Linked DNA regions of Homo sapiens. The protein of the gene in region 1 interacts with the protein of each later gene in a biochemical or structural test. Each region holds a gene or a part of one and is shown on either strand. Other genes may lie near its edges.

Region 1 (3,824 bases):
TATGAACTTACTTAGCATGGTTTGTAATGAAAGGCAGTTGTGTGTTTTTATGTTATTCTGGTTTTTTTATGATGTGTAAAGTTGACTTGAATTTTTCTTTTCTCTAGTACTGTAAAATCATGCCTAGATCTTTTGGTTAACTGGCTGCACATATACCTTAATAACCAGGATTCGGGAACAAAGGCATTCTGCGATGTTGCTCTCCATGGACCATTTTACTCAGCCTGCCAAGCTGTGTTCTACACCTTTGTTTTTAGACACAAGCAGCTTTTGAGCGGAAACCTGAAAGAAGGTCAGTGTTGTGGGAGTGCTGGACTGGATTTTCCTTGTGTTCTTGTCACCCTTCAGAATGGTGATTCATTACTTTTTTGAGATTTTTATAAAAACTGGATTCAGAAAACTGCATGTGCACTCAAACTTTTAATAATAATTTCAAGCAGCTCATAGGCCCCTACAAACCCCTTAAGATAGATTTGAGCTTGAGAACCCTACAAACCCCTTAAGATGGATTTGAGGTTAAGAAAGAGGTTTCTGCCTTTGAAAGTTTGAAATGTGAAGATGTCTCCAGAGGTGAGGCTGAGCCCTGGGCTGTGCCAGCGCCCTGTACAAAGCTTCAGTTGGATGCACCTTCTCTTTGTTGTCCTTGTAACAGCCCAGTAAATGGCAGGTATTCTCCCTTTACAGACAGCACTAAAGCACAGGAAAGTCATTTTCCCAAGATCACATGGTTAGTGGCAGGATTAGAAAACTGAAGCCAGGTTTGGCTGACCCTAAAGTTTGAGTTTATATAGATTAAACTCTGCCTGAAGCCTTGAGACTTAATTGACCAGTATTGTTTTGCTAATTTCTAAGAGTTACTTATAATTCAAATCTGTCAGTTGAAACTTATTAGATTAGTGTATTTTAGTTGAAGAGAGTCTCCAAGAACAGTGTTTATAAGTCATTGTAAATTGTTCTGTTTATGTTTATGAATAATTCTTATGGTTTTGTGGGTCACTTCCTCTAAACCGGGGTCTCTGAACCCTGCACGATTGCCATTTGGGCTGCATCATCCTTCATCGTCGGGGGCTGTCCTCTGCACTGTAGGATGTTTAACAGCCTCCACCTACTAGCTGCCAACAGCAGTCCCCGACCACCCCCAGCTGTGACAACTAAAAGTGTCTCCAGATACTGCCAGGTGTCCTCTGCGGGGGTCGCAGTCTCCTTGGGTTAACAGCCACAGCTCTAAACTGAAAGTTGTATGTGTTGCATTATATATGTTTACCTACATCCTACATGCTTCTAAAAGATGTTGTATGAACTAGTAGGATGAGGTTTTATCACAAGGTAAGTAAATACAAGCTCTGCTTTTCTTTGTATAAATTAATGCCAGGAATCTGGATTAAATATCTTGTTTTTGTAAGCTGTGACATCCCATTTAGGTAATTTTTATTGAAATACGTATCAAAGAAACTCCTAAGAAAATATACTTAAGTACAAGTTGGTCAGCTTGCCTCTTAAAATAAATGTGATGTCTTTATTTTACTCATGTAGAAAAGAATTATATTCATTAAGTCTAAGAAAGTGGTTTCTGTCTAAATTTGCCGTCCGTTGAGGTAGAAGGCAAATTTGGAGTTTTCTTGTTTAGAAAAAAAACTACAGATGACTACTGTGCACCTGAAAACAGCACTCAGCTTCACTAACAAGACATGCAAGCTAGAATCAAATTGCTGTTTTGTTTTGTTGCCTGTCATGATTGTTAGCTGAAACCAAATCACAAGGTCTTTTCTCCCTCTGTATTATCTCAGCATACACTGAGCTTGCAAACATATGAATTTCACATTGTCGTGGAATCTTACAGCCTGCTACTTCCTAAGTTTTCTTTAGAGAAGCTGCCTTGGTGACCAATGAATGTGGTTAGCCTAGTGATACTCTTCTGGGCCATATACTGTGTGACTATCTGCATGGACCTTTATTTAAAGCATTTCTGCAAATAATTTTTTAAAGTTTTTTTTAAATGTGTGATAATTTGTGCTTTTAAAAGTATCTTACACTTTTCACTTATTTGTACCTTTAAAAAAATCTTTTTTTTTTTTAAACCAAAGGTTTGCAGTATCTTCAGAGTCTGAATTTTGAGCGGATAGTGATGAGCCAGCTAAATCCCCTGAAGATTTGCCTGCCCTCAGTGGTTAACTTTTTTGCTGCAATCACAAAGTAAGTTATTTACGCTTTCTTGATGGGAGTTATTTAAAATATTTTTATTTATGTTTATCTAGTATTGTAAGAGTGTTAAATTTCTATGAAATTAGTAACATTATAAAAGGCCAGGCGTGGTGGCTGACACCTGTAATCTCAACATTTTGGGAGGCTGAGGTGGGAGGATTGCTTGAGGCCAGGAGTTAAAAGACCAGCCTGAGCAACATAGTGAGACCCTATCTCTACAAAAAAATTTTAAAAATTAGCTGGGTGTGGTTGCCTGTGCCTGTAGTCCCAACTACTCAGGAGGCTGAGGTAGGAGGATCACTTGAGCCCAGGAAGTCAAGGATGCAGTGAGCCCTGATTGTACCACTGCACTCCAGTCTGGGCTCCAGAATGAGACCCTGTCTCTTAAACAAACAAAAACAACCCAGTCCTTGCAGGAAATACTGTGATACAGCTATTGTTTTTATACTTTGATGGCGTTGGAAATTACTACTACTTCTTATCCAAAGGGCAGCACTTTGAAATAAGTATGGCAACCAGTAAGCTGAGAGGGGCAAAGCCATAGATGCTTATTAGAGTGACTCCTGTAATAGTAATAGAAATAAACTGGACATGAGGCAAATGTTGACCTGTAAGAGATTGGTTTAGAGAGTTCTGTTCTCTCAGGTCTGGTAGCTATGGCTAATCCATAGCCTTTCCTCTGTGCCAGGCAGTTCTAAGCACTTTACATAGAACTCATTTGATCCTCTAGGATGAAACCCTGTTTATCAACAGGGAGGTGGAGGTACAGAGAGGTGAAATCACTTGCCTAAAGTCATAGAGCTAGACTGGCAGCACAGATTTAAATGTAGTCTGGCTCCTTTGTAAGCTTTCACTAAGTTATTCTGCTTTATGGAGAAAGCGAATTGGAGAATTGAATATTCAATGAGGATATTTAGGCCGGATCATAGCTTAAAATCTTCAACAGATAAGAGCCAACAGCTTGCTGAGCTCCGTCAGCCTCTTTAGTTCTCCTTTGCTAGGCGTCTGGTTCAAGGTGTCCTCTCTTCTGAGTCTCAGTGATAGTAAAGGATTAGGAAAAGGCATAAAGAGACCAATAAGCAACGGCAGTGAGTGGGTGGAGGCTTCAGCACGTTGGTTAAGATGGTGAGCAGCTCAAAGAGTGAGGATGGATGAAGCAAAGCAGAGGCCGCTGCCCCTGGTATGTTCTCGGGGTGGGGACAGAGGACTGCATTTGTGAACCATCTGGTCCAGGGGCTCTCGATTTGGGGTTGGCATGCGCATTGGAGGCACAGAGTGTGATGCGATGTGAGGCTAAGAGCAGGGGATTGAAATAAAAGTCTCTGCCTAGGTACAGATATGGTAAATAAAGGCGTGTACCATTCTGTAGCTGTTGCTTTTGCCTGCTTGATGCTTTTGAGATTGAACCATATTGACACAAAGCTTTATTTTGATTTTAACTGCTGTGTTATGTTCTGGGAATCTTTTTTATTGAGTCTTTGTTGGGATTTCATCTGTTAGTTTTTGTCTTTTTTTTTTTTTTTATTTGAGACAAGGTCTTGCTCTGTCACCCAGGCTGGAGTACAGTGGCGTGATCTTAGCTCACTACAACCACCACCTCCGAGGCTCATGCAGTTCTCCTG
Region 2 (3,824 bases), on another chromosome or scaffold:
TTGGCTTTCCATGATCATTATATGAACTGGGTTTCCCAGATCATTTTTACTTAAAGGACGTCATAGTCACCTTATAACTTGAGTTAATTTAATGTTCCTTCAAGCATTTTAATTCTCTTTCTCTTTAATCTTCTTTTGCTCCTCTGAATTCTCATTAATTCCTCTACATTGCAGAAAACATGAAACTGACCTGTCAACCATGAGTGTTACATATATGAATAATGTAAAGTTCACTCATAAATAGGGTGTGTCTTAACAACTTCTTGATAAGTTTTTTAGGGTCTTACATAAAGCTGCATTCCCACAAAGGAAACGGCAGCGTGGTTTTCCCTGCTCATACCTCTCATACCTTCTGCTTGTGGTGAGAGGAACTCTGTTCTTCTGCAGTTTCTCCAATGCTTTAGTTATTAGTGTTGATAATTCAGGGGAACACCACAGTGTGGTCGTTTTGGAAGGAACAGATCTTGAGAATCTAATAACGTCTCCACTGAAAACTGTGTTTTTACATAATCTCACATACAGTTTTATGGAGTTTGATTATTCTCACATACTTTGTCTTATGGGCCAAAAACTCCAGGTAATAAAATATCACTGCTGTAGAACATAAGGATTCTGATTTTTTAAAAATTTATGTCATATTTATTAACATACTGATTTATTTCCTGCCTGCCTTGTCCCCACCTTACTGAAAAATGTATCCTAATTCATATGTGTCCTGTGTTTGTGTTAAGGAAAAAACATTTTTTAAAGAGCTTTCTTCCTGTAAACACTATTAGGCACCACAAACTAATTTTATCTCATCTGAAAGTTTCATAAATACATTGTGGTTTCTTTATTTGGATCTTTAATAAGGAGGATGGATTTAAACAGGCCACAAGACAACTGGACCAGGGGGCGGGGGTGTTGTCATCCTCATCACAAATACTTTGCAAGTATTTAGAACAAATACTTCTCAGAATACAGATTTAGGCTAGGCTCATATCTATCTATAAATCATATACATATATAAACTAAATAACACATAGAAAATCTGTATGACTGAACTACAAGAAAATTATAAGCAAGGTCACATAGGGCTTAGAAGAAATAATAGATTACAGATGATTAAAGTTAGCAGTTTTTCTCTGTTTACACTTCATCATTGGGAAGGGCATCCTTAGGGGCAACTATCATTCTTCTGTACGATACAGAGACTGCCAGGCTAGAGTCACTGGCATCTCTCTGAGTTGTTTCTGTTTTTATAAAATGGCTTTATATACTGTTATAAACAATTTTGTTACACCATTTTGCTTATGAAAGATCGTTAGGAATGTATGCTTTTCTATAAGAAAAACTGTTATACAATTGTAACAGTTTTAAATCAACATGCATGAGCCTATAGTGATACAAATAAACAATTGAATGGATACATGGAGAGCAGGGATGCTTCCTGCAGGAGAATTCTAAATAAGACGTGGATACATACTCTTCCCTACAGGGAGTATAACTTATTTCTCCCTTTAAGTACAGGCTGGATTTAGTGACTCACTTCCAAAGAACAGAATATGGCAAGGGTGAAAGAGTCATTGTATAGTGGAGAAGCCTGGCAAACATTGTCTTAACCAAATGACCCAAGTTAACGCCACCAGCTGTAAGTCATGTTGATACCATGTATCCCTTTGAACAATGCTGTGAGAAGTCACTTCATCTCTCTGTTCTGTTCCTAAAAACCCATGGTCCCAGTCTGATCATGAGGAAAGAGCAAGCAAATCCAGTTGAGGGATATTCTACAAAGTACCTCACCACCACTACTCAAAACTGTCAAGATCAAGAAAAATAAGGAGAGCCTGAGAAACTTAAAGGCAGAGAGACTAAGGAAACTTGATGACTAAATGCAGTGTTGTTTGAATTCTGGAGCAGAAAAGGAATGTTAGTGGAAAACCTGGTTAAATCTCCAAATGCAGTCTGTAGTTAATAGTAATATACAAAGTCGACGTCTTAGTTTTGACACACGTACCATGGTTGCGTAAGATGTTGACAGAAGAAACTGGGTAAAGGATATATGGAACACTGCAATTCTTGTAACTTTCTGTAAATCTAAACTTAATTGTAAAACAAAAGTTTGTTTTTAAACAGATGCCATTTTATATATCCTTGATACCTAGGAATTTGGTTTCTTCTTGAAGGACTTGGGGATGTATGCTTTTAATCAGTTTTCTTCAGGCCCTGTTTCCTACTTGTGAACCCTGATACAAGAAGGGGAAAGGTTTTAAAAAGGAGGCATCCAGTCCTATGGAGGCCTCTGTGGAATCTTTGATAGGCTCTGCTAAGAAGTGGGAGCAAGGGAGAGCAGCTTTACTATTTTGATTCTACATAATAGGCAGTCTTAATCAACTTCATTGTTCCCTTTAAATTTTTTAAAATTCAGTACTGAACATGTATATGTTTACATGTAGGTACAGACATATATGTGTTTGCATACACCACACATGCATATCAAGTTTTTCCCTCTAGCTTTAATTACTTTTAAGGGACAGGGATAGAGACCTGTCTGTGACTTGATTTGACTATCACATGGAATTTATGAGTGCCACCAATCTTTGCACTTTATTTCCATGTGTGTATGTTATTCAGCTGATAATAGGAAATTTTTTAGTAAGTTCAGATTAGGGTTTTTTTTTTTTTCGTGGAATCCTTTTACGTGAAATGTGAAATAGCATATTTTAAATGCCTTAAAATGTTTTTCTTCTTCAGTATTTTAAGGACTTTTCTTTATTTTCTTCCCAGATAAAACAATAAAATTATGGAAAATCAGTGAAAGGGACAAAAGACCAGAAGGGTATAACTTGAAAGAGGAGGATGGAAGGTATAGAGATCCTACTACAGTTACTACACTACGAGTAAGTACATAAGAAAAAAATGTCACAGATAGTGCTTGTATTCATATTATATAGCCCAAATCCTGAGCAGAGCTTGAATAGGAATAATTACAGTCTATCTCCCCTTTCCCAGTAATTCTGTAATCAGGTAGGACATTGAGTAACTCATTTAAACATAGAAACTGACCTACATAGAGGTCTCACTTTGGCCAGGGACAGAAGCAGGACTCAAGCACAAGACAGTATTTCACGCCATCAGACTTCATCTCTGGTTTGTCATGTTAGCTATCACAAGGTCAAGTTTCAAGATAAATTTTCTTTGGAAATCAAAAAAGTAGATACAGATCAAATCTTCTAGTTGTAGCTAAAAAATACCAAGAATTAGATGTTATGGGTTAATTTTCTTTTTAGCCTCTTTAATCTGAACCATAAACATTTATTAGCTTGGCATGTCTTTCAAGCAAAATATTGAAACTAAGAACTGCAAATTCTAATAGTATTGCAACCAGTAAAAGAAGATATATTATCCACATTGTTCATTTTTTCTTCAGCACTCGAAAGGATCAACATCAGTTGCTTTTTAAAACTAAATCTATGTAATATTGTTCTATTTTATGTTCTCAAAAACTGAAATAATGAAGTTTTCTGAATCTTAATTGCTATTTGAAACTGAGCCTTTTGTAATTTCTGTTTTTCATGTGTCTTATTGACAGGTGCCAGTCTTTAGGCCTATGGATCTAATGGTTGAGGCCAGTCCACGAAGAATATTTGCCAATGCTCATACATATCACATCAACTCAATTTCTATTAATAGTGATTATGAAACATATTTATCTGCAGATGATTTGCGGATTAATCTTTGGCATCTGGAAATTACAGACAGGAGTTTTAGTATCCATTTGGTTTTCTTTGGTGTTTGGTGAAGAAGGCATGTTGTGCCCATATTAGATTTATTTCATCTCTCCT

What was found.
Region 2: the proteins of RRN3 (region 1) and PPP2R2A form a complex in vitro, tested with the Homo sapiens proteins (one study listed by BioGRID).

The regions. Positions count from the first base shown.
Region 1 is NC_000016.10:15,066,538-15,070,361, reverse strand, and holds part of RRN3 (RNA polymerase I-specific transcription initiation factor RRN3), read left to right. Parts: intron 1-107; coding exon 108-292; intron 293-2,084; coding exon 2,085-2,193; intron 2,194-3,824. UniProt on the Homo sapiens protein: Required for efficient transcription initiation by RNA polymerase I (Pol I). Required for the formation of the competent pre-initiation complex (PIC).
Region 2 is NC_000008.11:26,357,403-26,361,226, forward strand, and holds part of PPP2R2A (serine/threonine-protein phosphatase 2A 55 kDa regulatory subunit B alpha isoform), read left to right. Parts: intron 1-2,766; coding exon 2,767-2,879; intron 2,880-3,571; coding exon 3,572-3,749; intron 3,750-3,824. UniProt on the Homo sapiens protein: Substrate-recognition subunit of protein phosphatase 2A (PP2A) that plays a key role in cell cycle by controlling mitosis entry and exit. Involved in chromosome clustering during late mitosis by mediating dephosphorylation of MKI67.